7 linked regions of the Homo sapiens genome follow. The protein of the gene in region 2 interacts with the protein of the main gene of each other region in a pairwise test. Each region holds a gene or a part of one and is shown on either strand. Other genes may lie near its edges. The genes, in order: EAF2, BIRC2, PPM1K, RFC5, HSP90B1, UBE2W and BLK.

Region 1 (4,493 bases), on a different chromosome or scaffold from region 2:
AGAAGAATCATCAAAGGAAATTAAAAATACATGCAGCTAAATGTATTAAGTAAACATAGCATGCCAAAATATGTGTAATGCAACTGAAGAAGTTCTAAGAGGGAAATTTATGGCACTAAATGCTTACATTAGAAGTGAGGAAAGTTATCATATTAATTAATTTAAGTCCCTTTTTTAGGAAACTAGGAAAAGAAAAGCAGATTAAACCCAAAGCAAGCAAAAAGAGACAAATAATGAAAATAAGAAGTGATATCAATGAAATTGAAAACAGTAGAGAAAATTAATGAAACAAAAAGGCAGTCATCGGAGAACACTGTTGATAAACTTCTAGTAAGATTGATAAAAATGAAAAGACAGAAGGCACAAATTACGAATATCAGGAATGTAAAGTACAACTTCTATCTATAATCAGGAAAGTAATGAATTTACTATAGATCCAGTAGCCATTAAAAGTATTATAAAGAAATGGTAGGCTGGGTGTGGTGGTTCACACCTGTAATCCCAACACTTTCGGAGGCCAAGGCAAGAGGGTTGCTTGAGCCCGGGAGTTTGAGACCAGCCTAGGCAATACAGAGTCTCTACAAAAAAAAAAATTTTTTTTTTAGATTACTCAGGCAGTCAGGCGTGGTGGTGTGCACCTGAGTAGTCCCAGCTACTCAGGAGGCTGAGGTGAGTGGATTGCTTGAGCCCAAGAGGTTGAGGCTGCAGTGAGCCATAATTGTGCCACTGCACTCCAGCCTGGGTGACAGAGTAAGACCCTATCTAAAAAGAAGAGAAAAGAAATATGATAGCTTTGTGCTCATAAATTTGACAGTTTAGAGGAAATGGACTAGTTCCTCAAAAGCTAAAAACTGCCAAAACTCAACTAAGGCGAAGTAAGCAACTTGAATAGTGCTATCAATATTAAATAAATTAAATTAGTAATTAAAAAGCACCCACCCCAAAAATAGCCAGACCAAGAAGTCTACCAAACATTTAAAGAGAATTAACACCAACATTACACAATCTCTTCTGGAAAAAGGAAAAGGAAGGAATATTTCTAAGCTCATTTATGAGGCCAGTATTACCCCTAATACCCAAACCAGATAAAGACAGTACAAGAAAAGGAAAACTATGAACCAATATCTCTGATGAACTTAAACTCAAAAATTATCAATGAAATATTAGCAAATTGAATCCAACATTGTATAACAATAATTATGCAACATGAACAAGACAACATTGCTATTCTCACATTTTATTTAGGAGTATGGATGAGGGTGAGAGGGAGGGTAGGGAAGATACAAGCAGTAAACAAATAAGTATCCAAATGAATTTCAGAAATAAGTGTCTTGAAGAGAATTAAACTAAGCAATGGGGGTTGGAGAATGGAGAAGAAGGAAACTTTTGAGAAGGTTACACTTAAACCGATTCAAGAAGGAGCCAGCCTTTCAGAGATCTAGAATCTTCTCAAGAGACACCATTAATGAAATGAAAAGCCTAGCTACAGACTTGGGGGAACCTGGAAAAAATATTCACAAATGCCAAAAGTGTGACAAAGGGCTCATAGCCAGAAGAATTAGCTATAAAGAACTCTTACAAATCAGTAAGAAAAAGACAAACAAATATAAAAATGGACAAAAGATTTGAACAGGCTTTTCAAAAAAGATATTCAAATGGCCAGTAAGCATATAAAAAAACACTGCTTCATATTATCACATCAAAGAAATGAAAATTAAAACTACAAGAAGATACCATTGTACACCCTTCAGACTCACTATACCAAGTGTGTGTGTGCCCTAGTGAGGGAAGATATGAAGCATCTGTGACTCATACCTTGCTGGTTGGAGTGTAAAATCAGTTTGAAAACTGGGAGTTTTTAATGAAATTAAACCTATGCCTATTGTGACTTGGCAATTTCTCTCTTTCTACCTAAGAGAAATGTGTATATAAGTTCAAAAAGACTTGTAAAGGGATTTTCATAACAACTTTATTAATAATATCAAAAACTGAAAACAACCCAAATATCCATAAGTAGAAAATGGGTAACTAACTTGTGGTATATTTATATAATATAATATAATATAATATCATAGCAGTAGAGAAGAATAGGCTACAGATTAATTCAATAACATGAGTAAATATAAAAACATTATGTTGAAAGAAGGCAGACCAAAAAGTACATGCTGAGTGAATCTATTTGTATGAAGTTCAAGAATAGACGAATAGACAAAAATCTTTGGTAATAAAAGTCAAAATGGTGATTAGTGACTGGAAAAGAGCATAGGAGAATATTCATGGGAATGGAAATATTCTATATATTGATCTCAGTGGTAGATATACAGGTTTTATACATGCTAAAATTTATCTAGCTGTACATTTTACTTTATGGAAATTATGTATTAAACAAACAAACAAAAGATCTGGGTGAAGAATATACCAGGCAGAGGAAACAGCTAGTACGAAGAACATAGCCTGGAAATGGATTTAATGTGGTCAAATAATAGAAAGCCAGTGTGTCTATAATAGGGAGAATGAGGAAGTGGGCTAAAAATTACCAGTTAACTTAATGTAGCAGTGTACTAAGATGATATCAAATGTCAATGTGTTAACTGAGTGTATTATTCACTTAGCATTTTTTGGTTTAAAAAATTTTGTTCAACTATTTGACATTTGTATCATATGGGAAAATATTGACTTAAAAGTCAGTAGATTTGCCTCCACTCATAAATAACTGACAGCTTTTGACATTTCTGGATCTTCATTCCCTCATTTATAAAATTATGAAGTTGTTCTAAATGGTAGCTGAAGACCTTCCCAACTATAATTTTTTTGTGTATCTAGAACTTGAAAAATGCTAAACAAAAGAAGACATCATTATTATTCTTTTTATCTACAGAAATATTTATAGCCAAAGTTATAATGGGAACTGGCTCTTCAAAAATACTTAGAATATTTTAAATCCTTATTAAGGGAGCAGGGGGGAAACCTATAGATGCTTCATCAAAATGTTCTCTAGGAAAACCAGGAAAAGAATGAAGTTCATCTGTTACATTATCACATTATATTATATGTATTTAAAGGAACAAAAAATAATCAGAAGACAGTTTCTGCCAAAATAGATTTTAATTTTTATAGTTTTTCACAGTATTTACTTTATATTTGAGTTACCTGTATACTTAAGTACAATGGTTTAAATAAATGTGGAGTTTAGATTTAGACCTTGTCTATCCCTTTTAGTTTCTGTAATCCAATCATTGAAGTATGGCTTGATGGTAGAAGAGTTTTGTTTTTTAATAAAATGCTTCAAGTACTGTAAATGTATGTTTGATTTTAGTTTCAACAGTTTCTTAAAAACTAATACATTCAATTTTTATTATATTTATTTAGCATTTTTTATTTAACCTATCTATTCATTTCTGTCTTATTTTCAGAACTGAAGGCAGAAGCTAGTCTAATGGACCAGATGAGTAGTTGTGATAGTTCATCAGATTCCAAAAGTTCATCATCTTCAAGTAGTGAGGATAGTTCTAGTGACTCAGAAGATGAAGATTGCAAATCCTCTACTTCTGATACAGGGAATTGTGTCTCAGGACATCCTACCATGACACAGTACAGGATTCCTGATATAGATGCCAGTCATAATAGATTTCGAGACAACAGTGGCCTTCTGATGAATACTTTAAGTAAGTATACATAAACACAGGCAATTGGAAAAGTAAGAATTTATAGTGGAGCCATATTGATTGTGACCTAATATTTGGATAAAGAAAAAGATTCCTATTTTATGCATTTGATACTATTAATAATTACATTTTTATTGAATTATGGTTTTCTTTTGAATCTGTGACATAATGCCTTCTTGGTTTTTCTCCCATCTCTCTAGATAATCTTTCCTCTCACTCCTTTTCAAGTTTATATGATCCTCTGCTCAGTCATTAAAGTTGGAGTTTCTCAAGGCTTACTTTTGGGTTCTTTTTTTCTTTTCATTCTACAATTTCTCCCTAAATAACTTCCTCCATGTTTCTGTTGCAGTCAATACTTATGTGTAGGTAACTTGCAAATTTATATCTCTGATTCAAACCTCTAGGCTTTAGACACATGTTTAACATCATCTCCCATCATCTCATCACCTTCAAATTTACTTTGTCCAAAACCAACTCATAATCAATCTTTGGCTCACTGTGTTACCTCTTAGTGAAGGTAGCATACATCTAATTATGCAAATCATAAGTCTAATTATTTTCAATGGCTGAAGTTCTTCCTCTTTACAGTGTAGCCACTCCTTCATCAAGTCCTATTTGTTTTGCCTCCTCTATATTTCTCAAAGTCATCTGCTTCTCTGCATCTCCACCACTATCACAGTAGTTCAACCTATTATTTCTTGCCTTACCTACTACAATGACCTAACTGGTTCACCCCTTTATGTAGTCAAGCCCATTTTTGATCCATTATGTACACTGTAGCCATATTGATTTTTTTCACAATTCTAATACAATTTGTCATCTCTTCTG
Region 2 (4,493 bases):
AAATTTCACAGATAACATTATTTTAACAACACTTAATAATTTCTCATGAATGCAATTTTTTACTTAATAGCTGGCATTTGAGTACAAGGAAGACACATGAAAATTACTTTTTAAATCAGGAAAGAAAAAATATTCTGGTAACACAATCTTTTTAAAGCACTTTATTGAGATGTTTCTCACAAACTAGGGGGAGAAATAAGAGAAAAATCCTTATTTTAAAACACAAGTGAAAAGCACCAAAGACAATTCGGCACCATAACTCTGATGAACTCCAGAGTTCCTGGTTTCCAGTTCTTTTCTACACTATAATTTAGTATTCAAAGCTTTCTGAAAGAACAACAAATCCAGTAACTCCTGAAATGATGCATAACAAGCAGTGACACTACTCCCTTAGGTACACATACATACTAATATAGTTCACCAAACATAAATCTTCCCTTGTAAATAAACAGATTAAGATTAAATATATGATACCATCTTTTCAGAAACAAGATTATTAGTACCAAAGCAGACTAGAACATGAATGTTACTAATTGAAAAACTCATAATTCCCTTTTTACTTTAGATGGCTTCAAGTGTTCAACAATATTTTAAAGACCTTTTTATGCAGGTTAAAATATAGACTATTTTTCTTTAAGAGAGAAATGTACGAACAGTACCCTTGATTATACCCCTGCAAATAGGGCATTTTCTTAGAGAAGGGGCACATTCCTGGCATACTACCAGATGACCACAAGGAATAAATACAACAGAAACTTCTTTGTCCATACACACTTTACAAGTTCGTTCTTCTTGCAACCTCCTCAATTGTTCTTCCAGTGACAGACCTAATAACAAAAAATAACTTTAGTGAAATTGTTTCCACTTCATTAAAAAAAAAGGGTAATAGTTCATGTTGGTTTTAAATCTTTGTTTTACCTGAAACATCTTCTGTTGGAATATACTTCATATTCTTATCCACTGAGGAAAGAAAACATAAAAACCATTACTCTACTAAATACAAAACTGAGCCACCGCATCTGGCCAGTCCTAAGAATTTCTAAAATAATTTTCCCAACAAACTCACCAAATAAGTTCTTATACAATGTAGAGTCAATTTCTTTTAGACAGTTTTTGAAGATGTTGGCCGCAGCATTTCCTTTAACCAAAATGGTATCAATCAGTTCTCTCGCTTGTAAAGGTATCTGTGTTTTTTGTTTAATAATATCATGTTCCTGTTTATTAATTACATTGGCCTTTAAAAGATTATCCAGGATAGGAAGCACACATGTCAATTGTTGAAAGAGAGCCATTCTGTTCTTCCGAATTAATGACAAATCATCTTCATTAAAAAAAGAAAAAGAAATCCATTAGATTTTAAACTCCTTTAACTATACTCATATAGTCACTAATAACCAACCCTACAAACAATTTAGGCACTAAATAAAGTTCAAAAAAGAACAAAGTAACTTGTTTGCATTTGTAAGTTTGTTGTTTGGAAAACTTCCAGAGGAAGTCTCTGTTTAATTTTTAAGTCTATATATTTACATGTCCTAGAACTCCGCTTTTACTTTATTTTGTTGCAAGAGATTTGTAGAAGACAGTAAAAATTTCCCCCCACCATATATAATAATACTCTTGTATTTCCATTATATCATTTTACTTTTGTAAGCACTTTCATAGTAATTTGTCTCATTTGATACAGTGATCCTGTCAATTAAACAAGGCGAGTATTACTGCCTCTCATTTTTACATAGGGAGAAAAAAGACTCAGAAAAGAATGAGTGGCCTAAGATCACAAGAAAGAATAAGCTGCAGAACCAGGCATCCTAGACCAGTGTTCTTTTCAACACCCCATACTTAAGACGTGGTATTGTAGTATTGTAGGGTTTGAGTTGCCAAGTCAAAACAGACCTAGGTTCCAGTGTTGGCTAGGCCCACTCACTAGCTATGTGTCCTCATCCTTCCCCATACACCTCAGTTTCCTCATCTGTAAAATATACATAACGGTACCTTCCTCAAAGTTGTAAGGATTGAATAATACATGTAAAGCATCTGGCACAATATGTGGTACATAGTTAACTACCATTATTATTTTATAAATGTCTATGTTTATAGCAATTAAAAAAAACTACCTAAGAATCAAGCCTGACCTTTTTTTAAAAAGCCAATGTTTTTCCTTTAATATCGCATCACATAAAACTCCACAGTTAATTTATATTTATGGAATATGGTAGTTCCTTCTTTTGGTATCTGAATCATTATAAAATTTGTCTATTTTCAGACTTTCAAAAAAATTTAAAAAGTACATCTCTACAAAGTACCAGTTTAATGAGAAATAAATTATAAAAACAGAAGCCTATCTTCTTTCCCCTTTTACATCTCTCTAGAAGTGAACTGCTCTATTAATCTCAAAACTATAAAATTCCATTCTGTGACAACTTTTTCTTCTACCTAAATAATTCCTCTCACTGCTAACCAATTTGTTCTTCACCTTTTCAAGATCTCCATGTCATTCCCAATTCTACTTGCACAAGAGCTATCTCCTGGCTTTGCTTCAAACCTCCTATTCTAATCTAGGTAGCAGTCAGGTATTTCAATGAAGTTCTCTATATTAGCACCCTTAACTCATCTTCCGTATTCCTTACTTGCCCTTTCCCCTATTAACACTGCCAAATCTGTAATTCAATACTATTTTCCAACCCATACAAAGTATGAGAAAGTCATAAATCTAAGGTGACAGTGATTTCATATAACCTTAGCTGGATTTCATTACTACTTAACAATCCTTAAATTGACTTTTCTTAGGCCCTTTCTTTCACCAAGTCCCTCCCACTTCCCAAGTCAATCTACCTAATGCTTAAAAAAAAAAAAAAATTGACGTGCTAGGAGCTGTGTTAAAGTGTTTTATTTGCAATATCTCATTTAATTCCTACAGCAACCCTATGGGAGTCATACTATTATTATCCCCATTTTACAGATGAGAAAGCCGATGTCTGGTTGAATAAATAGCCAAGCTAGTAACTGATAGAACTGGAATTTTTTTTTTTTTTTTTTTGAGATGGAGTCTGGCTCTGTCACCCAGGCTGGAGTGCAGGGGCACGATCTCGGCTCACTGCAAGCTCTGCCTCCCGGGTTCACGCCATTCTCCTGCCTCAGCCTCCCGAATAGCTGGGACTACAGGCATCCGCCACCATGCCCGGCTAATTTTTTGTATTTTTAGTCAAGACGGGGTTTCATCGTGTTAGCCAGGATGGTCTCAATTTCCTGACCTTGTGATCCGCCCGTCTTGGCCTCCCAAAGTGCTGGGATTACAGGCATGAGCCACCGCGCCCAGCCTGGAGCTAGAATTTAAACACAAATCTGTTTCAATGTAGAAGTCCAGACTTTAAATATTTTGCTACACGGTCATGCAATAAGGTACTCTTAAGTTATTCCTGTCTTTACTTACAAGCTTAAAAAGAAAGCATCTTCCAACGCAATACTCCAATACATATGCAACCTTCGCCTCTCTGCTGGCCCTTTAACCCTGTCTTTTGCACACTAGTCTCGCCAGCTAGTGTATATACTCCTTGACAGCAACCACTGTGATTAGGCACAGTATTTGGCACTGGTGCTCATGCTCAACAAATATTTATTGAAGGAGGGGAGGAGCCAAGATGGCCGAATAGGAACAGCTCCGGTGTACAGCTCCCAGCGTGAGCGACGCACAAGACGGGTGATTTCTGCATTTCCATCTGAGGTACCGGGTTCATCTCACTAGGGAGTGCCAGACAGTGGGCGCAGGCCAGTGGGTGCGCGCACCGTGTGCAAACCGAAGCAGGGCAAGGCATTGCCACACTTGGGAAGCCCAAGGGGTCAAGGAGTTCCCTTTCCGAGTCAAAGAAAGGGGTAACGGACGCACCTGGAAAATCGGGTCACTCCCACCCGAATATTGCGCTTTTCAGACTGGCTTAAAAAACGGCGAACCAAGAGATTATATCCCACACCTGGCTCGGAGGGTCCTACGCCCACGGAGTCTCGCTGATTGCTAGCACAGCAGTCTGAGATCAAACTGCAAGGCAGCAGCGAGGCTGGGGGAGGGGCGCCCGCCATTGCCCAGGCTTGATTAGGTAAACAAAGCAGCCAGGAACTCGAACTGGGTGGAGCCCACCACAGCTCAAGGAGGCCTGCCTGCCTCTGTAGGCTCCACCTCTGGGGGCAGGGCACAGACAAACAAAAAGACAGCAGTAACCTCTGCAGACTTAAGTGTCCCTGTCTGACAGCTTTGAAGAGAGCAGTGGTTCTCCCAGCACGCAGCTGGAGATCTGAGAACCGGCAGACTGCCTCCTCAAGTGGGTCCCTGACCCCTGACCCCCGAGCAGCCTAACTGGGAGGCACCCCCCAGCAGGGGCACACTGACACCTCACACGGCAGGGTATTCCAACAGACCTGCAGCTGAGGGTCCTGTCTGTTAGAAGGAAAACTAACAAACAGAAAGGACATCCACACCGAAAACCCATCTGTACATCACC
Region 3 (4,493 bases), on a different chromosome or scaffold from region 2:
AGATGAAAGAAACTGGAGAGGGTAAACTGCACTTACTACAAAATTTTGTTTCACTGGCACTGGTCCTATCTATATACATAGGCCGAAAAGAATATTATCCACTCTTATAATACTGATACTGCTTCAGTTCTTGCTAAAAACTAAAGTTTTAAACTTAAATAATAACTTTGAAATTTAAAATGACATTTTAAAAAATCCATAAACTGAACAGTTACACAACATATGGCATTCTATCTTTAGTGGCTTTAATGTATTTGATAAAATAGGCCCTAAATATCAAGACAATTTTTGCCATCTTTGAAGGCTCTGGCAACTTATCAAGAATAAAATTTTTAAATGTTCTCAAAACACTAATTTTTAAAAAACACAGACCGATAAGAATATATACAAAATAAGATTTTAATAACAAATAACAAATTTAATAACAAAATAAGATTTAATAACAATATTATAATAGACCTTTTCTTTTAGTACACACTAAGAGCATCATCTTGTCTTGCTCCATTATACTTTCAAACAAATTACCATTATATGAAAAATACATTTTAAAATATCTTAAGAATGTTCTGGGATCATTACTTCAAAGCATATGATAGAGGAATTAAATTAAATAATGCATTTTAATTTCTTTATTACAAATGAATTGATTTTAGTAAGAATAAAAAATATGGAACTCTTCATGCATTTGTGTGCCATCCTTGCACAAGGACCATGCTGATCTCTGTATCATTCCAATTTTAGTGTATGTGCTGCTGAAGTTAGCATATGAATTACATTTTTGTGATTAATTTCTTTATACAACTGTTTAATGTTTTTGTGACAAAGGTATCTTTAGAAAGTTTCTTTTAAGATAGGCAAGTTAATTAAATTCTTTAAGTTCAAAATTCTGTTGAGTTATACTTCATTCAATAATAAAAGGAGTCCTGTCATATTTTACATCAAGTCAATCACCGATTGGTTTAAGCATCTACATTGACTAGATACTTTTAAAAGAGGCTGATGGCATTGAGAAGGCCAATGTTTTTGGTTGGTGGTCACATGCCTGGGATAAATTTGGACATTCTCATCCAAAAACCTTGCCCAGTAAGCTGCAGCTATTTACAGAACAGCTGGGGCACACCACCGACACTACAGTCAACAAACATTGTGGTGTGAGACATAGCCAGATGCACAGCCAACTCAGTTACTATGAAATAAGAGCATACCAAAATTCAGGAAGTAATAAAAATAAAACCATAAGAAAATATTTCATTTCCTCTTTTCCTTCATGTGTTTTAACTATTTGGAACAAGAGCTAAGTCTTATGCATAAAGTTTACCTCTTTCAGCTTCTGTCTTCTTAAAGGTAAGGGTCCAGTTGAAAGGAAAAAGAAAAATTCCAAAGGAATGAAAGAAAAGAAAATGGGCCTAAATGATCTACAAACTGGAAAACATATCCCTGAAGAGAGTGGACTGTAATGCTTTCCTGAGGAGTGTGATAGTAAGGTTCTCAAAAAAAGCTCAGGAAAAAATCTCAAGATGGTAAATAGAGCCATCGCAGAGTTACCTTCTCCTCTCCTCATGAGAGAAGAGAGATAATGCTGGTGGTCAGGAAAATCCCAGCCCTAACTCTGAACTGACCTTTACCACTCTAATCTTCAGTTCCTTCGCTGTGAAATGCAAACAATCTCTATCCTTATGTATTCCAACTGAAGACTGTGCAAATGACATTTCTGTGGTGCACTTGGTTTCTTTCTTTTTTTTAAGAAAAGGATGAACCAAATACAGATCAAGATTATTGCATGATTCATTTTCAAATCATTTACAAGGTTACATGCACACATTCATTTGGCTGGTACAGAAATTTTCAGGGTTAACTTTAACAGCAAAAGATTTGGGACTAGCTAACTAGAAAACGTTTGCTGAATTTTCGTGAAATGGTTTTGATAAATTTAGTCAAAACCAGAAACATTTCACTTTCAAAATTTAAGGACATACAGTACACAAAATTTTAAATTCAGCTAGCATGACCTTATGCTGAAAATATCACTAGTTACCAGAGAAAAGCTGCAAGATTGAGCTTTTTAAGAAGTGACAGAAAAATATTTTCCTTCTAGTTATACAAATTAGTGCATATTAACCATTGTCTTTTTCTATTTAGGACCTATTTGCAATTTTTTTCTTGTTGGACAATGACTGTCCTCGCTAGATGTGATTACCCTGTAGTGTATTTCAGCACTTGGTCACCAGATCCATCTAAAAAAAAAACCAAAAACCCAAAACAAAACTCATAGTATGGACATTTTGTCCATAAAATAAGCAAACAGATTAAACATTTTTAAAATCTTTTAAAAACTAAAGTACAACATCAGAACTGTTTCGGGGCTTCTCTTTCTGAAAAATTCTCCAATATATTTCATTTAAAAGTGAGGTATTAACATTAATTGGAGTTCCCAACAGCATTTAATGTGATTCTTCATATAAACTCATTTCTACATAAATCCTTACAAACAATTGTCCATTAAAATCCCCTCCCCCAAAGGACTTAAAGTGTTTCCTTTTTACTCCTCCCCCACCCCATGTACTCCCTAGGATCCAAGGAATGTGATAGTTTTACATACCATCAGCAGACAGGCGGGCATGACTCGAAAAGGCTTTATCTATTTCTAGAAAAGCCAAGGTCAACAGAGTTTCCAAGTTCTTCTCCTTAGGAAGCAAATCCCTTTGTGGGGAGGAAAAAAAGAGCCTTAAACAATCATTTTACAATAGGTTTTTCTCCTCACTGTTACTCTAGCTAGCAGTCATTCCACACAACGGGCCTCAGGATTTTCCTGTCAAATGCTGAAGACCTACTGGCTAAGGAATACCTATTGAGAATCCACAAAGTATCAGGCACTGTGATAAGCTTTTAAGGGCACAACAATGAAAGTCCAAGTCCTTGTCCTTGAAGAATTGATCCTCACTACCACAACCCTGAGAGGTCGAGAGTTCCTTCCCATTGTGAGTTCTTTCGTGGAATGCGGTATACACAGGAAGTCAAGAAATGGTCACTGGGAAGTCAAAAATAGTCACATGGTCGTAACTCCATCACATGTTCTCCCTCTTTCAATTTTAGCAGTAATGTGATCCTCAAAAATGCATTAATACTAGTTGAAGTAAATAAACGGAAGAGCTCCAAAATGCCTGCATTAAATGCATTTTTCCACACTAATGCCAATCATCCAAAGCTATTTTCAACAAGTCAGGTATTCAAAGCTATTCACACCACTTGAAAGAGTAATTACCATTTACTGAAGCACTTATCTGTCCTACACTGATGGGAGTAAATGCTTCTCATAGGTTATCTCATGTACATTATGCCACTTCACTTAAAATGATCACAAATTAAGTGCTATAGATTTTGGTTAATGCTTTCCCCAGGGGAGTTGTTAAAACATGCATTTCTGAAATTGTGATAACCATAAGTAATAAATGGCACACTTAAACTACTGCTCATTCGTGAAGCAGCAGCATGCAACCACTCAAGTAACTATGTTTACGCTGGAAGCCTCAGCCAAAGGGTGAAAGTTTAAGTAGGAAGTATAGGAACTGCAAAGTCAGGAGTGAAAGTCATTGTACATACATAATACATTTCTCCATGTGGGTATGACAGAAATCAGCTGCTGCAGGTCCACCGTGTCCATCATACACTGCAAAGTACAGGACCTCATCTGTCAGCTGAGCGAAGTCAAACCGATCTTCATTCTCTTTCCGTTTGCCAATCTGTGAGGCGCACCCCACATTTTCCAAGCTGATTTTGGGAATTGGCTTGCCATACTTAATGCTGGGTGGCAGCAGAATTGGCTCATCAATGCGGTTATCCCAGATCCCAAAATTGTCCCAGGTAGCTGGACTCCCACTACCATCTGGGTCAAACCGAGAACACCTAGGCTCTGAAGTGGAGCTGTGGCACGTGGGTGTCACCCGCCTGTCGTCCTGCAGCAGGCGGGAGCTTAGCAGCACTCTCCTTCTCACCTGGTTCCCACCACTTCTGACCAAAGTAATTAAGGCAGCTGTTGACATAACTCAGCTCCAAAGGACTCAGTGATGAGGGAAAGGTCAATGGAACAATAATGGAATGTCTTCAAGAAAAATGATGCAAGTCACAGGGGACAGAGGGAGAGAGGGGCAGAGGAGGAGAGGGAGAGAGACAGAGAGAGAGAGACCATCAGAAATTTTGAATATAACTGATATGTCATCAAATATTACCAAAAATGAAGCTCATAAAGGATTTGACAGAAAATACATATATTTATGTTATATATTGGGTAGGCATCCAGTAGCCTGCTTCTAAGAACAGTGGATCAAAAATGAATCGATTTTCCTACCGCATTCACAGCATTTAAATTCTATAAAAATTTAACAGTGTGCACATACACAGAACATGTATCTCTTAAACTTGAACCTGCAATCACTTGTTAAAATGCATGTTCTGACCCAGTGGCTATGGGGTGGAGTCACTCTGCATTTCTAACC
Region 4 (4,493 bases), on a different chromosome or scaffold from region 2:
GAGACTTCTTGTCCTTTTACATAAAATTATATTTGGCAGGTTGATGACACTTCACCTTCTATGGGCAGGGAGGGCGGCTTTTTGCAGACTTTTCCATGGAGACTGTCTGGAGGCCTTAGAGCACTCAAGGGAGCAATAACCCGAACAAAGAGTTGCTTATGACACCGGTTCCATTCTGTAGGTACCCAATGTTCTCACATGGGGATCTGCCCAGAATGACAGTCACTCGGCAGAACAAGATGCCGAAGAAAGGCTGCCAAGCTTCTAGGACCAGAAGATATTCTCGCTGTCCTCCTCCTCCTCCTCCTCCCCCACCTCTCCTCCTCCACCTCCCCCTACCCTCCTCCTCCGCCTTCTCCTCCCCCTCCTCCTCCTCACCCCCTCCTCTTCCTCCCCTCCTCCCCCCTCCTCCTCCTCCCCCTTCCCCCATCCTTCTCTTAACATGTGCTGCCATCTACTCCCTCGCCACAAACTCCTAAAGATCGTTCTTCTCTCAAAGCTGATTCACTTGGAATCTTAATGAGAGATGACAAGTGTCCTTTAAGAGAAAAGAACTGCGCTAGGCCCCTGAAGACAGACAAATCGCAGGGTGCTGTCCCTCCCGCTGCCAAATCATTCACTTGGCAAGCAGTGAAGTAATATCAGCTCTCTGAGCACCTCAACTTCAGATATGCTTTTCCTAGCCATTGTGGTTCAAAGGGTACCATTAGTAGAAAGGAGAGGGTACTATTAGCAGAAGGACTATCTGATAGCTTAAGGATGAAAGATTTTCCACACCCCATCCCACGGAAAGATATGAATTCCCAACTCTGAAATTGAACCCAGTGTCAAAGGAGGTTGAACACCAGTGACTGGCCAGACTTAAAAGTCCCCGCAGGGCTTAGTCCCTAGGCTGCTGAAGGGGAAGTCCCGCTACAGAGGTATCTAGCCTGTGTCATTAGATGGGAGACACAGAGAAAGGCATAGAGATTTCTCTGGGCCAGAAGATGAAAACTGAAAACAAGCCAAGCCATATCTCACATCCTAATTCTCCTGTAATCCCAGCACTTTGGGAAGCTTAAAGTTCCTAATTCTCCTGTAATCCCAGCACTTTGGGAAGCCGAGGCGGGCGGATCACCCAAGGTCAGGAGGTCGAGACCAGCCTGGCCAACATGGTGAAACCCCATCTCTACTAAAAATATAAAAATCAGCCGGGTGTGGTGGTGCATGCCTGTAATCCCAGCTACTCAAGAGGCTGAGGTCAGAGAATCGCTTGAACCCAGGAGGCAGAGGCTGCAGTGAGCCAAGATTGCGCCACTGCACTCCAACCTGGGTGACAGAGCAAGACTCTGACTCAAAAAAAGAAAAAAAAACTCCCCCCCGCCTAAAAAAACAATGACAACAGCAACAAACACAAAGTTCCTAATTCTCCTTCCAGTGTGCACACCAGCCCAAACGCTCCACAGTGCCTCTGCTTACCTCTTCTCAAGGCATTCTGGGCGTCCTGAGTCATGGCGTCTGCTTCATCCAAGATCACTAGCTTAAAGCCTTTCCTAGAAAAACAAATGGTGCTGTCTAAAGATTTCTTCAATCTCATCTCAACATCTGGGCTCAAACCTATATCTTCCCATTGTGCCATCGGGCCCTGTCTCAGAAAGACAATTTCTTCTAGAACTTTGGCCAAGGCAGACATCTTTGGTCACTCAGAGAGGAAATGCCGCATCACTCCTTCAACCCTTGGTGGGAATGGAGGAGACTTCTCTACTTCTGTGCGCTGTGTCCTCTGGCATCTTCACTTTCCTCCACATGGCACCCTACCATGCTACTGCTTTTCCCGTCTCCCTCACTCATGCCTGAGTCCCTCACCCTTTTGCTTTTTTTGAGACTAAGTTTTTGCTCTGTTGCCCAGGCTGGAGTGCAGTGCCGCGATCTTGGCTCGCTGCAACCTCTGCCTCCTGGGTTCAAGCGATTCTCCTGCCTCAGCCTCCTGAGTGGCTGGGATTACAGGCGCCCACCACCATGCCCAGATAATTTTTGTATTTTTAGTAGAGACGAGGTTTCACTATGTTGGCCATGCTGGTCTTGAACCCTTGATCTCAGGTGATCCACCTGCCTAGGCCTCCCAAAGTCCTAGGATTACAGGTGTGAGCCACTGCGCCCGGCCCTCACCCTTTTTCTTTCTTTCTTTTTTTTTTTTTAGCCACCATCCTAGTTGTCCTTCCTGATCTCAATTTATTTTTAAATTCAAACTAGCTCATCCAGTCTTAGGGTAATCTAGCCAGTTCTCAGGAACTAAAAATGAAGTTAATGCTCCCTAAAGAACTTGGTAATGCAGGCTGGGCTCACGTATGTAATCCCAGCAGTTTGGGAGGCTGCGGCGGGCAGATTGCTTGAGCTCAGGAGTTCGAGACCAGCCTAGGCAACATGGCAAAACCCCATGTCTACTAAAAAATACAAAAATTAGTTGGGCGTGATGGCTCACGACTGTAGTCCCAGCTACTTAGGAGGCTGAGGCTGGAAGATCGCTTGAACCCAGGAGGTGGAGGTTGCAGTGAGCCGAGATCATGCTACTGCACTCCAGCCTGTACGATACAGGGCGACCCTGTCTCCAAAAAAAAAAGAAAAAAAAAACAAACTTGCTAATACAAGCGTAGATAACATTTTATTTTAACAGTTGCATTATAACGCTTCTTACTACCATCCCTCTCGTTTATCTCTTTTCCATGGTTGCTTTGGACAAAGTCACTTTTTTTTTCAACCCATATAAACTGGCTAAGGAGAGGATTAAAAAATTAACCCATATCATCTTACTAATCAAAATCAAGGGAGCGAAATTACACAAATAATTCTTACTTAAATATTGTCCTTGTGCTAGCAAAGCTCAGGATCGGTCCTCGAATGATGTCTATTCCTCGGTCATCTGAAGCATTCAGCTAAATGTGGAAGACAGAAGACAAAACAAAAACCATGTTGCTGTGCTATCTGTGAGTTCTTGGTGTTAGTGTATTTCCTCATCAGTCCAGCTCAGCAGGCTAGCTCTCTATGTCTAATGATGGCTAAGAGATCATCATAAAATAAAAAATCAGTTTTACACAAAATTCACTAAATTAATAAAGATGGCTATATTACCCCCACCCTTTGAGGACAATGACTGACATAAATTGGAGAAATAATTAATTGGTATGGTTACACTGAACAGCACCTCTGGTATGAGCAGAATGATACAAATTTCAGCTACCACAATCCTAAGTTACCAAGTTCTTAATAAACTGAAATAAGGACATTAGTAGCAGCAAAGTTCTGAGACCTGCGTCTAAAAAGTAAGTTAAACTTTTCTTGCAATAGACAATACTCAGATTTTTGAATCTAAGTATATTAGTCAAGGTCCCAGCAATATACAGATGGCATACTCAAATGCAGCAATTTGAAGAGAATTAAACAAGATCTTTTTAAAGGTGTGATATAGGAAAACCATGGGGCTATGCAATACCTGTCACCCTTGAGCCTGAAGGGCTTAGTGAAGGGAGTGGCTGTAGGCACCTGGAGAGGGCTGCAGGAAAGGTACCACCTGTGAGATGTACCCTACAGGTGGGCCATGCTGCCAGCCTGTGTCAGCCCCCAGGGAAGGCCCAGGCATCACTCACTTCCTTCCCCCACCCCTGCCAAGGCCCCTATTGGCCAAACCCAACCAGGAGCCAGAGGGTAAGTGAGCTTATAGTCAGTAGGGCTCAGCCTTCCAGGCAGGAATATGGTGGAGAAACGTGGAGAATTGATCTAGAGGGGCCATGGCAGACAGGCAGCAACCAAGTCACCATAAAGTAAGGTTTGGGGAGAAGTTGGCAAGAGCAAAGAAAAAGGTGCCAAACCCTACAACTGCCCTCTAGCTGACCAACGCTAATCCAGACCAAAATGACCATTATAGGAAAAAGGGAATTAAAATATTCAAATTTACTTCTTTCCTAACTGTCCGTGGGGCAACTTACTTTTAAAGTAAAATAAAACCAGCAGAACTGAAATTAAGAGACTGGAGTCTCTTAAGTTATTTGTAGAGTAAGAACAATCTTATTTACCTCCAAGACCATGGAGCCAAATTCTTTGTCTTTATATAGCTGTTTCGCACAGGCTAGGATGGTAGATGTCTTGCCTGTCCCTGGGGGACCGTAGAGAAGCAAGTGTGGCAGTCGGTCTTCATTGATAAACTTCTGAACTGAGGATCAGGAAGGAAGAAGGGCACCATCAGTCTTTGGGAGCTGCCTCATTCACCCTGGGCTCCTGAGTTGGGCTGAAAGCTCTTCAACCCAATTCAATGTCCAAATCAGAGGCAGATACAACTTGATGTAGGGGCCTCATATCTACTTTCGTGGAACAACTGGAATTCACTCAATAGCGCAGCCAGTCAACAAGTATTTATTGAGTGCCTACTGTGTTACAGGCACCTTTCTGGGTGCTGGCAACATCTGTGAACTTAAATGATTCTCCGTAATGCTATTTTTACTCCACTGTGTTGCAATTTT
Region 5 (3,500 bases), on a different chromosome or scaffold from region 2:
AGTGGTACCTGGCCAATAAGTAGCCATGATATGACAAAGCCTAGTGAGTGACTAGGCCCCTGGTCTCAGAGCACATGTTCTAGTGATTTGGGGATTAAGAGTTCAGTTTTGGATGCAAGTAGAAGCTGCTGGTTAGATATCTTAGGTAGAAGCATTTAAAAGGCAATTAAACACATGAACACAGAGCCCAGTAGTGAGACCTAGACAAGGGGCTGGCAAGCTATAGCTGTACAGCTGGCACCCATTAGAAATTTTATTGGGACACTTTTTTTTTTTTTTTTTTTTTTGGACCTCTGTCACCCAGGCGTGATGATGGCTCACTGCAGCCTTGACCTGCCAGGCTCAAGCAATCCTCCTACCTCAGCCTCCTGAGTAGCTGGGACTACAGGCATGCACCACTGTGCCAAGCTAATTTTTTATTTTTTATTTTTGTGGAGATGGGATCCCATTATGTTGTCCAGGCTGACCTCAAACTCCTGGGTTCAAGTGATCCTCCCACCTCAGCCTCCCGAGGTGCTGGGATTATAGGGATGAGCCACCACACTTGGCTGGGACACATCCTTATGTATTGTCTATGCCTGCTTTCAAGCTAAACAGAGTTGGGACATGTGACAGACCATATAGCTCACAAGCTAAAAATATTTACTAGCTGGCTCTTTCTTTCTTGTTGTTTTCTTTTATCTTTTTTTCTACTAGCTGGCTCTTTTAAGAAAAAGTTTGCTAACTCCTGATCTAGGCTAAGAATATAAATTTGAGAACTAGAGATGGAACCTGAGGCCGTGGCAGTGGATAAGACTACATAAAGATCACATGGACAATGAGAAAAGGGCTGAAACTTAACTTGGAGAAAATGTATGTTAACATTTAAGAAGTGGGCAAAGGAAATTTTTAAAAAGATATGCATGGTCATGGAAACTAGGTCCTGGATAGGTGTTAGCAGCCATCGTTCCCTGCATGGAACTGTCCTGTTTAACCTCACTTATTCATACAAATGGCTGCCAATTAAGTGTTAAGCTTTGGGAATGGAGCTTCCAACAAAATGTTTGCCTTCATGGAGCTTATATCCAGATAATTTCACCTGCTTCTTAGCAACCTGACATTAACATCTCTTGGGACATCACTTTCTATCTTTCCTTGGGAATGATTGCCCTATCCTTCTCCAACATCTAGCCCAGTGCTTAAAAAGAGAGGGCACTGGGGCATAACTCTTAGTGATGCCTCCAAATGAAACCTGGAGACATCAATGTTAGTGACGAAGGCAGGGGAAGGTAAATTGGGAACACAAGTTAAAAAAGTACTAAAATGCAGTCATCTAATTAGTCTTCATTAAAAGAACATCTGCTGCAGTAAAAACAGGAAATGTTACTTTCTAGGATGAAGAAAGTTGGTCACAATGATAAGTATGTGCTTCTTTCCCTTAATGTTAAGAAAACTTAAAACTGAATTAAGAAAAAAAAATTGAAGCTGTGGGCACATTCTGTTACTCACTTAGCAGGAGTTGGCAAGCCAACTGACCTCTGAAATAGAATTTCCTCATCTCCAAGATGGTAAAATTTTAAAAAGGCAAAAAGCTGCCCTGTCTACGTCACAGTGCTATAAGCAACGAGAGCTACTGTAGGGCACTGGCTCTGTCTCACCCATACAAACAACAGTTACTGGCTTAAGAGGGATCTTAATTCAAATTTAAAAACTTGTAACTATCCTTAAATGACGTATTTTATTCCACAGCTTTCACAACTTTCATGAACTTTCTTTAAGCCCTTTATCTCTACAAGCCAGCCCCAGCCCTGGTTGCTACCACTCATCTTGAATATTTTCAAGAGGAATATTTCCCCCAAAGAGTCTCCCCTTGTCCACTCCTCACATCCTCCACACCACCTTGAGAATCTTAAAAAGTTCATCACATTCTGGCTGGGCACGGTAGCTCATGCTTGTAATCCCAGCACTTTGGGAGGCCGAGGTGGGTGGATCACGTGAGGTCGGGAGTTCGAGACCAGCCTGGCCAACATGGAGACACCCCATCTCTACTAAAAATACAAAATTAGCTGGGCGTGGTGGCACATGCCTGTAATCCCAGCTACTTGGGAGGCTGAGGCAGGAGAATTGCTTGAACCCAGGAAGCGGAGGTTGTGGTGAGCCAAGATTGTGCCATTGCACTCCAGCCTGGGCAACAAGAGTGAGACTCCGTCTCAAAATAAATAAATAAATAAAAGTTCATCACATTCTATCCATAACTGCCACCGAAAAGAACTCTGTTCATCTAGTGAGCATGCTATGCCTCCATGCCTTTATTCAGGATGCTCCACAGACAAATTACTCTTCTAACCTGGGAAACTGACCAAGCAGTGCCTCCTCTGTGGGTACCCAAGAAGCCTTCTCCCTTGGGGAAGCTGCTGCTATTTCCTACTTTATACCCTCCATGTACAACAGCAATCACAAACCTTTGTGCCTGGCCCTTTGCAGGTCCTCAAACATTTCTTCAAGTGACAACAGTTCTGTTTCCTCATTTTATAAGGCAGGAAAATTAAGGCCCAGAATAAGTCATTTGCTCAGAGAATAGAACTGGAGAGTCAAGATCCTCACCATGACTATTAATTCTTATAAGGAATTGGTCATACTCACGTAATTGTCGTTCCCCGTCCTAGAGTGTTTCCTCTTGGGTCAGCAATTACAGAAAATTCATTGGAGTCAGACTCCCAGATGTGCTGGGTATCGTTGTTGTGTTTTGAAGTGACAATAACCTTATCTGCTACAAGGAAGGCGGAATAGAAACCGACACCAAACTGGCCAATCAATTCAGAAGTTGACTGGCCATCTTCCTGTGCTTCAGTCATTTTGTTTAAAAACTCGCTTGTCCCAGATTTGGCTATGGTACCAAGGTTTTTAACCAACTCTTCTCTGGTCATTCCTACACCGGTGTCTGTGACATGCAGCAGGTTCTTCTCCTTATCACACTAAATGCAAGACAAGAACCAGATAGTTGTATTTAATATTTACATTATGCCAAACAAATATTGAGGAACTAACCAGCTTTGGGTCCCATCAATTCCAATACAGAAAACTAAACTGAGATATTTTCCTCCACATAGTTTTTTATGGCCTTTTCTGAAAGTGTACATCTTAAAGTAATTTATGTATTTGAGAAAGTATTAATATCAAATGGGCAGACTGGCCTAAATGTCAAAGGTTAGAGGCTGACCTAAATAAAACAAGTTACCTTTGAAGGAAAACAATTCAAGAAAAATAAAATTTTATGTCTTGCCTATTTCTTTACTAGAATACAAAACAACTTGAATGATTCCTCTATTTGGAATCTGTGATGGATCATTAATATTCTTCACTCAATATTCCTGGCTGTCTGCCTTCCAGAAACTTAGGAGTACTCTACTTTCCATTTAAGAATGGCTAAGGCCATGTGACTAGTTTTGGCCAATGAGTTATAAATGGCCAATGAGTTGTAAAGGAGAGCTCTGTTTTCAGGCTGAGCCTTTAATTATAAT
Region 6 (4,493 bases), on a different chromosome or scaffold from region 2:
GCCAAGAATAACACCATTGCACTCCAGCCTGGGCAACAAGAGCAAAACTCCATCTCAAAAAAAAAAAAAAAAACAAAAAAAACTAGGGTAATTCATCCATTAAATATATTAGAATATTTTAAAGAATTTTCTTCATATAACATAAATATAACACCAATTATAGCTTCTCTTCTTTTTCCCAAGTCTTATAGCAAATATATATAATCTTCATATCAAAATGCTAAAAAGTTATTACAAATTCAAACTGCTTACCATGATACCACCATTTTGTTTTCTTTGGATTCTTGTTACATGTTCGCACATAAAAAGAATTATCCGGTGGTCGTCTCTGAAACAAAAAATAATTTAAATAGGTTGAAAAACAGAAAAACTGAGAGGGTGACAGTTTTAATAAAAGCTTAAGAAAAATTAACAGAATGCATAAAAAACAATATAAACATGAATAGTATATCTAAAAGAATAAAAACTATAAATGTATTCCAGGAAATGTGTATGCTTAACACCTAAATTTAAAAAAGGAATAATAAGCGTGTTTGAGTGTGGTCTGTGTTAGGTTCTAGCCTGGCCAACATGGTGAAACCCAGTCTCTACTAAAAATACAAAAAAATTAGCTGGGCATGGTGGTGCGTGCCTGTAATCCCAGCTACTTGGGAGGCTGAGGCAGGAGAATTGATTGAACCCGGGAGGCAGAGGTTGCAGTGAGCCAAGATTGTGACATTGCACTCCAGCCTGACAACAGAGCGAGACTCTCGTCTCAAAACAAACAAACAAAAAATTAAATAAATTATAAAGGGAATGAAAAAGGACTGATGAGAAAAGTCAAATTCACATAATAATTTAAACATAGCCGGGCGCAGTGGTGGGCATCTGTAATCTCAGGTACTTGGAAGGCTGAAGCAGGAGAATTGCTTGAACCCAGAAGGTGGAGGTTGCAGTGAGCCGAGATGGTGCCACTGCACTCCAGCTTGGGTGACAGAGTGAGACTCCATCTCAAAAAATAAATAAATAATAAAACAAAGGGCCAGGCGCGGTGGCTCACGCCTGTAATCCCAGCACTTTGGGAGGCCGAGGCGGGTGGATCACGAGGCCAGGAGATCGAGACCATCCTGGCTAACACGGTGAAACCCTGTCTGCTAAAAATACAAAAAAAAAAAAAAAAAAAATTAGCCGGGCGTGTTGGCGGGCGCCTGTAGTCCCAGCTAACTCAGGAGGCTGAGGCAGGAGAATGGCGTGAGACTGGGAGGCGGAGCTTGCAATGAGCCGAGATTGCGCCACTGCACTCCAGCCTGCGTGACAGAACCAGACTTCGTCTCAAAACAAAACAGAAAAGTCTACTAAACTAGATTTGTTGGGAGAAGTATAGCAATGTACAAACCTCCACAAAGAACTGTTTTTACTGTAATAGAATACCATCAAAGATAGACCAGAAGATTCAGTTTCTAAACAATATTTAAGAGAAAAAATGGGAAAAATATATATTGGCATTTCTACTATAATTGGCCTTTCTGCTGAACATATGCCCTGACTAGAACAATATATGAGAAATATATGGCAGCTCCGCAAGGGAGCTACCGCAGATAAAGTGATGCCAACAACACTGAAGATATATTATGGAAGAGACTTTTCCTGAAATTTGTTGCATACTGCCTAGACAAAAGAAAATGTTACCCTCTACAAAGACTTGGAAACATCAAATTTATATTAAAGCTATATTAAAGTTTATAGATACTATGATAGATATCCTTATCCTTTAGTCTCCTTTATGCCTTTCGGAATCATTCCAATAACTTGATTATTTTCCTATCATTAAATATTGTATAGTGTATATGCAGGATTTATTTTCAGACTTAAATCTGCTTAGCTAAGCTAATGAAAATGAGAGATTAAGGGAATCCTCTCCTCTACCTGAGGCTAATGAAAATAAGTGAATTTGGTATGACATCATTTAAGGAAAGTCTAACCAGAAAGCAATCGTGAGTAGGACTCTGTGATAGCAGGAAGGAAAACAGTTAGTCCATTTGGCACTTCTAAAACTCATATATGTAACTATCAGTCTAGTTGAGCCTCACAATGCTCTTATGTGTTAATATTAGTAATTTCATTTAACAAAAAGAAACATTAGAGCATAAGACAGTCAAGACATTTAGGTATTCCAAGTCAATCTGTGGACACAATTTGAGAAAATTCCTAAAAAATGAATATTATGAAATTAGATGCCTGACTACTTCAAGGAAGGGATGATTCTACAAAGTTAAATCTATGTTCATATGGAATTGGTACTACTAGAGCAGATACTTTCACAAACTCATTTTATGTATATGTTGATTAGAACCCAAGAATCATCAGAAAAGTCTTCAAAAAATACATATTTAGAAAAAAGAAATACTCAATTCTATTTGCTTAAATCATTTATCTCCCTGACAAATGATCAGGGAGATACAGTTCTTGGAAAAGAAACTATACAAAAGAAGTCTTACGAAATTGTTTTAGGAATGGGATACAAACTGAAAAGTTTGAACAATGTAAATATATTACAAAGGCATGCAAATAAAGTGGAATTTACTGAAAGTCCTGTGATCTCAATATCAGAAATTATCTTTAATCCACTACAATCTAATGACATACTGGATTTAAATACCTTCAGTTTATGGAACCACTCCTGACTGTGTAAAAGGAAATTGGAATAGAAGAATTATGACTAAAGTCCCAAACACCTAAAGTAAAATATTTAATAGTAGTAGAATTAACAAAGTAAAGCCCATAGAACCATGTCCACTACGGAATAAAATTTACCCGTTTTAATAATAATAAAACGTGTAGATGGGTATTTAAAATACTTTTCTTTTTTCTTTTTTGAGACAGAGTCTTGCTCTATTACCCAGGTTGGAGTGCAGTGGCGTGATATCAGCTTACTGCAACTTCAGCCTCTGGGTTTAAGCAAGTCTTGTGCATCAACCTCCCAAGTAGCTGGGACTACAGGCATGCGCCACCACGCCCAGCTAATTTTTCTATTTTTAGTAAACAGGGTTTAGCCATTTTGCCTAGGCTGCTCTTGAACTCCTGGCCTCAAGTGCTCCACCCTTCTCGGCCTCCCAAAGTAGTAGGATTACAGGCGTGAGCCACTGCACCTGGCCTAAAACACTTTTTAAGGTTTCTTTGGAGCTTAGATCTCTCTAATGCCAGATCGTCTCAATGCCAAGGCAAATTTCCTCTTCATCTTTGTAACTTATCACTTAGCACAGTAAAAGTAGCACATACTAGGTACCTAGTAAATGTTTTTTGAATTTTATCGTATTTCATGGAAATCTTGATTTCTGTATTATCATCTTGGTTAAATATTATACAACTATTACAGTAAAAACATAGTTTATTAGTGCTTTAAATGGAATGATTAGTCTTATACTAAGTGTACAAGAAACACTAGTAGCAGACAACTAGAATGTAAGGGGAATGGTGAGGGTTAGAGGAAGATGAAGGAAGTACACAGAATATAGTCATTCTCTAGTTTTTAATAATAAATCATTATATTTAAATGTAAATAAAATCTAATAATCATGAGGCACATGCAAGACTATGTACAGATATCGCTGACATTAATCTCTTAATAACTTTCTTATTAAATACTGTTGTTACCGTCTCACCTTTCTATAGTCTTTAAGCGTAACAGGAACATAGAAGGCCTTGTACCCACAAACTGCTTTGCCCTACACATAAAAGTTTAAAACGTGTGTGTGTGTTGGGGGTGGGTGAGAGGAGAAAATATAACAGCAATAAGCAACAAATGAGTAAAAAAACAAAACAAAACCAATTTAACCTATTATTTCACATGCTGTGGCTTAGAGTGCTTCAGATTCTAAATAACCTATCATTAAAAAATGAACTATTATCTTAAAAGTTCTCCAAATACTAATTTAATAAAAATGACAATCAGTTCAATTTGGAGAAAAGGAAAGAAAACTGTAAAACACAAATAACTCCCTAACCTCTAGGGCAAAGCTGTTTCTCCTTTAAACAGAATGCAAAAGGAAAACCCTCATAGGGATTTAAGAGGGGTTTTAAAATGTAGAAATACATAAATGTTATGCTATACTAACCCTTAAGCAGGAATGACAAGAGTGTCAGAAGTGTACAGAGGATTCAGATACATTTAAAGGGTATCCTAAATTTATATGTATATTTTAAATTTATTTCATTATTATTTTCTTGAGATGGAGTCTCGCTCTGTCACCCAGGCTGTAGTGTAGTGGCATGATCTTGGCTCACTGCAACCTCCTGGGTTCAAGCAATTCTCCTACCTCAGTCTCCTGAGTAGCTGGGATTACAGGCATATACCATCACACCCAGTTAATTTTTGTATTTTTAGTAGAGACAGGGTTTCACCATGTTGGCCAGCTGGTCTCGAACTCCTGACCGCAGGTGATTCACCTGCCTAGGCCTTCTAAAGTGCTGGGATTACAGGTGTAAGCCACCGTGCCCAGCCTACATTTTAAGTT
Region 7 (3,349 bases), on a different chromosome or scaffold from region 2:
CGTCTTCGCTCTGGGACTCACTCTGAAAAGAACAGGGCAGCCACAGGCACCAAGCACAGGCGACCTGCCATCAGGGCCGGCCGGGAAAGCAGGGAGCCGCGAGCTGCGGGGTGAGCCACCTACCTGGGTATGGCACCCGCCCATAAGTGACAACTTCCATCAGGAGGACTCCAAACGACCACACGTCTGCTTTGATGGTGAAGACCCCGAAGTGGATGGCTTCCGGGGCTGTCCACTTGATGGGGAACTTGGCCCCTGTGGGAAAAGCCATGCAAGCTTTGGGAGGCCACGGCCGGTGGCCCCTACCCTCCATCCTCACCCCTACCCCTGCTCCTGCTGTCCTTCCATCAAGCCCCCACTGCGGGGCCTCACAGGGCGGGGCGGCCAGGCATGGCGGGGGAGCCACTACCGCACACCAGGACACATGACCAGGTGAGTGCAGACACGACATCAGCAGCACAGAAAGACGATATGGACACCAATACCACACAGTCACCCACTTTGGTTCTTTAAAAAGAGAGCGATGGCCTCAATGGGCAGCCACCACGTTTCCACCTGGGATGGAAGGGGCCTGTTTCACCTTACAGGGGCCTTGTTTAATTTAAAAGACATGGCCTGGGCAAGCCATTTAAACCTGCGGGCGCCTCCGTTAGTCCCTTCCTGCAAAATGGAAATGGTGACACTTGTACCTCCGAGGGCCGCTATGAGGAAGAACTCACATCCGGCTGCCCTGTGAAGCACCTCAATGGCTGCAGCCCCGGCCAGCATTTGGAGCAGACCTCAGGGCTTGGCACTTCACAGCCTCCCCTGGCCTCCATTTCTCGGTCTCCCCAGCCAGCCTGAAGTTCCCGAGAGAACAAGCCATATCCTGTCTGCTTGTCATCTGACTCATAGGCTCAGCAGACACTGCTTGCTAGCTTGATAAATATATGTGACCCCTTCAGATTCTCTTGTGACGTAGATTTCCACCTCAGTTATATGCACAGAGTAAAACAGTGCTCCGTGGACACCCTAATACAGGTTGGTTTGCTGATCGCACATGAGAGCTGTGTTTCCCACAGTGTGCTCTGTGAAAGCCTAATTCCATGGAAGGTTAATAGGGACTATATAAAAATAGTATTTGGGCATGGCTTACACCTGTCATCCCAGCGCTTTGGGAGGTCAAGGCAGGCAGATCACCTAAATTCAGGAGTTCGAGACCAGCCTGGCCAACATGGTGAAACCCCATCTCTACTAAACATACAAAAATTAGCCAGGTGTAGTGGCACACGCCTGTAATCCCAACTACTTGGGAGGCTGAGGCAGAAGAATTGCTTGAACCCAGGAGGCGGAGGTTGCAGTGAGCCAAGATTGTGCCACTGCACTCCAGCCTGGGTGACAGAGACTCCATCTCAAAAAAAAAAAAAATAGTATTTGGAGCTCAAATTAGTTTGGGAGGCACTAGGTGAGGCAAACATAAACTGTTTCTTTGCTGCAGGACTTCTCAGTGCCTTTAATATGTTGATGTGCACTGGGAATCTCCAAGACAGGGAGTAGGGTGGACTGCTGTTTCTCCAAACCTACCTTATCCTAAAGCTGTTCCTCCATGGGAGGTCTCAGGGCACTACCATTCTGCTGAACACATTTGGGTAAATGAAGGAAATGCTGATCTAGAGCTGTAGAAACCGTATAGCCCTCAGGTGTCTTCCCTCAGGGCTGTGCTGGGAGAAGTTAAAGGCGGCTTTGAGGAGCTGGGAAAGATAAGGCCCTAGGTTTCCCTTGTGGTTAGGGGCTGTGCTTACCCTCTTGGGCCGTGTATTCACTGTCGATGATTCGAGCCAAGCCAAAATCAGCAATTTTGCAGCACAAGGCCTCAGACACCAGGATGTTGGCCGCCCGCAGGTCGCGGTGGATGGAATTCATGCGCTCAATGTATGCCATCCCTTCAGCAATCTGAGGGAACAGGCACATGGTGAAGGACAGCCTGGGGGCCTCCACGCCAAGACCGAGCCCACACTGTGTCCCCCGCACAGCCCCTGTGGGCTGCTGGGGAAGGAGCTGTTTCTTGGATGGAGTAGAAAGGTGACTGTGTTGCTCCTCAGCCGAATAAACTCCTCTCCTAGAAGCCCAGAACAGCAACGCAGCAACGTGGGCATCAGAGACACAGGGGCTACCTGTGCCCCTCCCCCTCCTCGTTCTCGCTCCACACAGCTGTGTCCAAGGGTCTGCAGAGATGGAAGATAGAAGAACACAGGCAGGAGAAAAGGAGAGGGAGGGAGAAGAGAAGAAATGGTAAGGAAGGAGGGGGAGGGGGAGCAGGAGGCAAGGACAGGCAGCTCTCACTGGCTGGCTGGAAGCACAGCTCCTGGAGCTGGAGGCCCTCGGGAAGTCGCTGACCTCTAGCAAGCTGCTTAACCTCCCCGAGGGGCCACAGTCCTGACATGGAACATGAGGGATGTGGTCTCCAGGGCAGGGGGTTGAGGCAAGCATTAGACGAGGTTGATTTGTGACCAAGAACCTCACCCAGCGCCTGCCCCGTGGGGGCACCCAGGGAGCACTGGCAGATCCAGGTGGACAGAGGCTGTGAAGAAGAAGAGACTTGTCTCTCCTCCCCTGATCACCAGCCTGGGCCAGGGATAGCAGCTGGTGCTACTTGGCACCTTTTAGCTGAGGAAACTAAGGCTTTATTCACCCAATCAATGGACGAAGAAACTGAGGCAGAAAGCAGAGACCCCATTTACCTCTTCAGACATGCGACTTCAAGAAGCCAGCACTAGAATTGATTCCACTTCTCCTTATGCTTGCATTTTGTTGGTTTATCTATGAATCCATCCATCTATCCATGCATCCATCCATCCATGCATCCATCCATCCACCCACCCATCCATCCATCAACACATCCATGCATCCATCCATGTATCCATCCATCCATCCATCTATGCATCCTTCCATGTATCCATCCATCCATGGATCCATCCATCCATCCACCCACCCACCCACCCATCCATCCATCCACCCATTCATCCATCCATGCATGCATCCATCCATCCATCCATCCATCCATCCATCCATGCATCCATCCATCCACCCACCCACCCACCCACCCACCCACCCACGCATCCACCCATCCATGCATCCATCCATCCCCTTGCTACACCATGCAATCAATACTCATTTACTAATATGGGACTGTGGGGAATATAAAACTGAGTACTAAATATATCTGGGCAGCATCTAACAGTACTCGTTCTGATAACTAATATTTATTGAACAGTACCAGAAATATATTTTAAAAAATGTTGAGTAGGGCCCAGATCTGCTTTCAAGAAGAAGCTGCCCAGATCTGCTGAGCAAGAACAGTGCTTCCGGG

The links.
Region 1: the proteins of BIRC2 (region 2) and EAF2 interact in binary tests that used the Homo sapiens proteins (3 or more experiments, as listed by UniProt).
Region 3: the proteins of BIRC2 (region 2) and PPM1K interact in binary tests that used the Homo sapiens proteins (3 or more experiments, as listed by UniProt).
Region 4: the proteins of BIRC2 (region 2) and RFC5 interact in binary tests that used the Homo sapiens proteins (3 or more experiments, as listed by UniProt).
Region 5: the proteins of BIRC2 (region 2) and HSP90B1 come close enough for resonance energy transfer, tested with the Homo sapiens proteins (2 studies listed by BioGRID).
Region 6: the proteins of BIRC2 (region 2) and UBE2W interact in a two-hybrid assay, tested with the Homo sapiens proteins (one large-scale study listed by BioGRID and IntAct).
Region 7: the proteins of BIRC2 (region 2) and BLK interact in binary tests that used the Homo sapiens proteins (3 or more experiments, as listed by UniProt).

The regions. Positions count from the first base shown.
Region 1 is NC_000003.12:121,869,124-121,873,616, forward strand, and holds part of EAF2 (ELL-associated factor 2), read left to right. Parts: intron 1-3,413; coding exon 3,414-3,665; intron 3,666-3,865; coding exon of another isoform or gene 3,866-3,921; exon of another isoform or gene 3,922-3,943; intron 3,944-4,493. UniProt on the Homo sapiens protein: Acts as a transcriptional transactivator of TCEA1 elongation activity. Acts as a transcriptional transactivator of ELL and ELL2 elongation activities. Potent inducer of apoptosis in prostatic and non-prostatic cell lines.
Region 2 is NC_000011.10:102,374,324-102,378,816, reverse strand, and holds the end of BIRC2 (baculoviral IAP repeat-containing protein 2), read right to left. Parts: intron 1,322-4,493; coding exon 1,067-1,321; intron 961-1,066; coding exon 919-960; intron 828-918; coding exon 634-827; 3' UTR 147-633; downstream 1-146. UniProt on the Homo sapiens protein: Multi-functional protein which regulates not only caspases and apoptosis, but also modulates inflammatory signaling and immunity, mitogenic kinase signaling, and cell proliferation, as well as cell invasion and metastasis.
Region 3 is NC_000004.12:88,274,544-88,279,036, forward strand, and holds part of PPM1K (protein phosphatase Mn(2+)-dependent 1K), read right to left. Parts: intron 4,100-4,493; 5' UTR 4,041-4,099; coding exon 3,601-4,040; intron 2,701-3,600; coding exon 2,600-2,700; intron 2,235-2,599; coding exon of another isoform or gene 2,194-2,234; exon of another isoform or gene 384-2,193; intron 1-383. UniProt on the Homo sapiens protein: Serine/threonine-protein phosphatase component of macronutrients metabolism.
Region 4 is NC_000012.12:118,019,325-118,023,817, reverse strand, and holds part of RFC5 (replication factor C subunit 5), read right to left. Parts: intron 4,187-4,493; coding exon 4,050-4,186; intron 2,913-4,049; coding exon 2,833-2,912; intron 1,533-2,832; coding exon 1,459-1,532; intron 1-1,458. UniProt on the Homo sapiens protein: Subunit of the replication factor C (RFC) complex which acts during elongation of primed DNA templates by DNA polymerases delta and epsilon, and is necessary for ATP-dependent loading of proliferating cell nuclear antigen (PCNA) onto primed DNA.
Region 5 is NC_000012.12:103,933,410-103,936,909, reverse strand, and holds part of HSP90B1 (endoplasmin precursor), read right to left. Parts: intron 2,955-3,500; coding exon 2,623-2,954; intron 1-2,622.
Region 6 is NC_000008.11:73,805,399-73,809,891, forward strand, and holds part of UBE2W (ubiquitin-conjugating enzyme E2 W), read right to left. Parts: intron 329-4,493; coding exon 253-328; intron 1-252. UniProt on the Homo sapiens protein: Accepts ubiquitin from the E1 complex and catalyzes its covalent attachment to other proteins.
Region 7 is NC_000008.11:11,559,885-11,563,233, reverse strand, and holds part of BLK (tyrosine-protein kinase Blk), read right to left. Parts: intron 1,933-3,349; coding exon 1,782-1,932; intron 256-1,781; coding exon 124-255; intron 1-123. UniProt on the Homo sapiens protein: Non-receptor tyrosine kinase involved in B-lymphocyte development, differentiation and signaling. B-cell receptor (BCR) signaling requires a tight regulation of several protein tyrosine kinases and phosphatases, and associated coreceptors.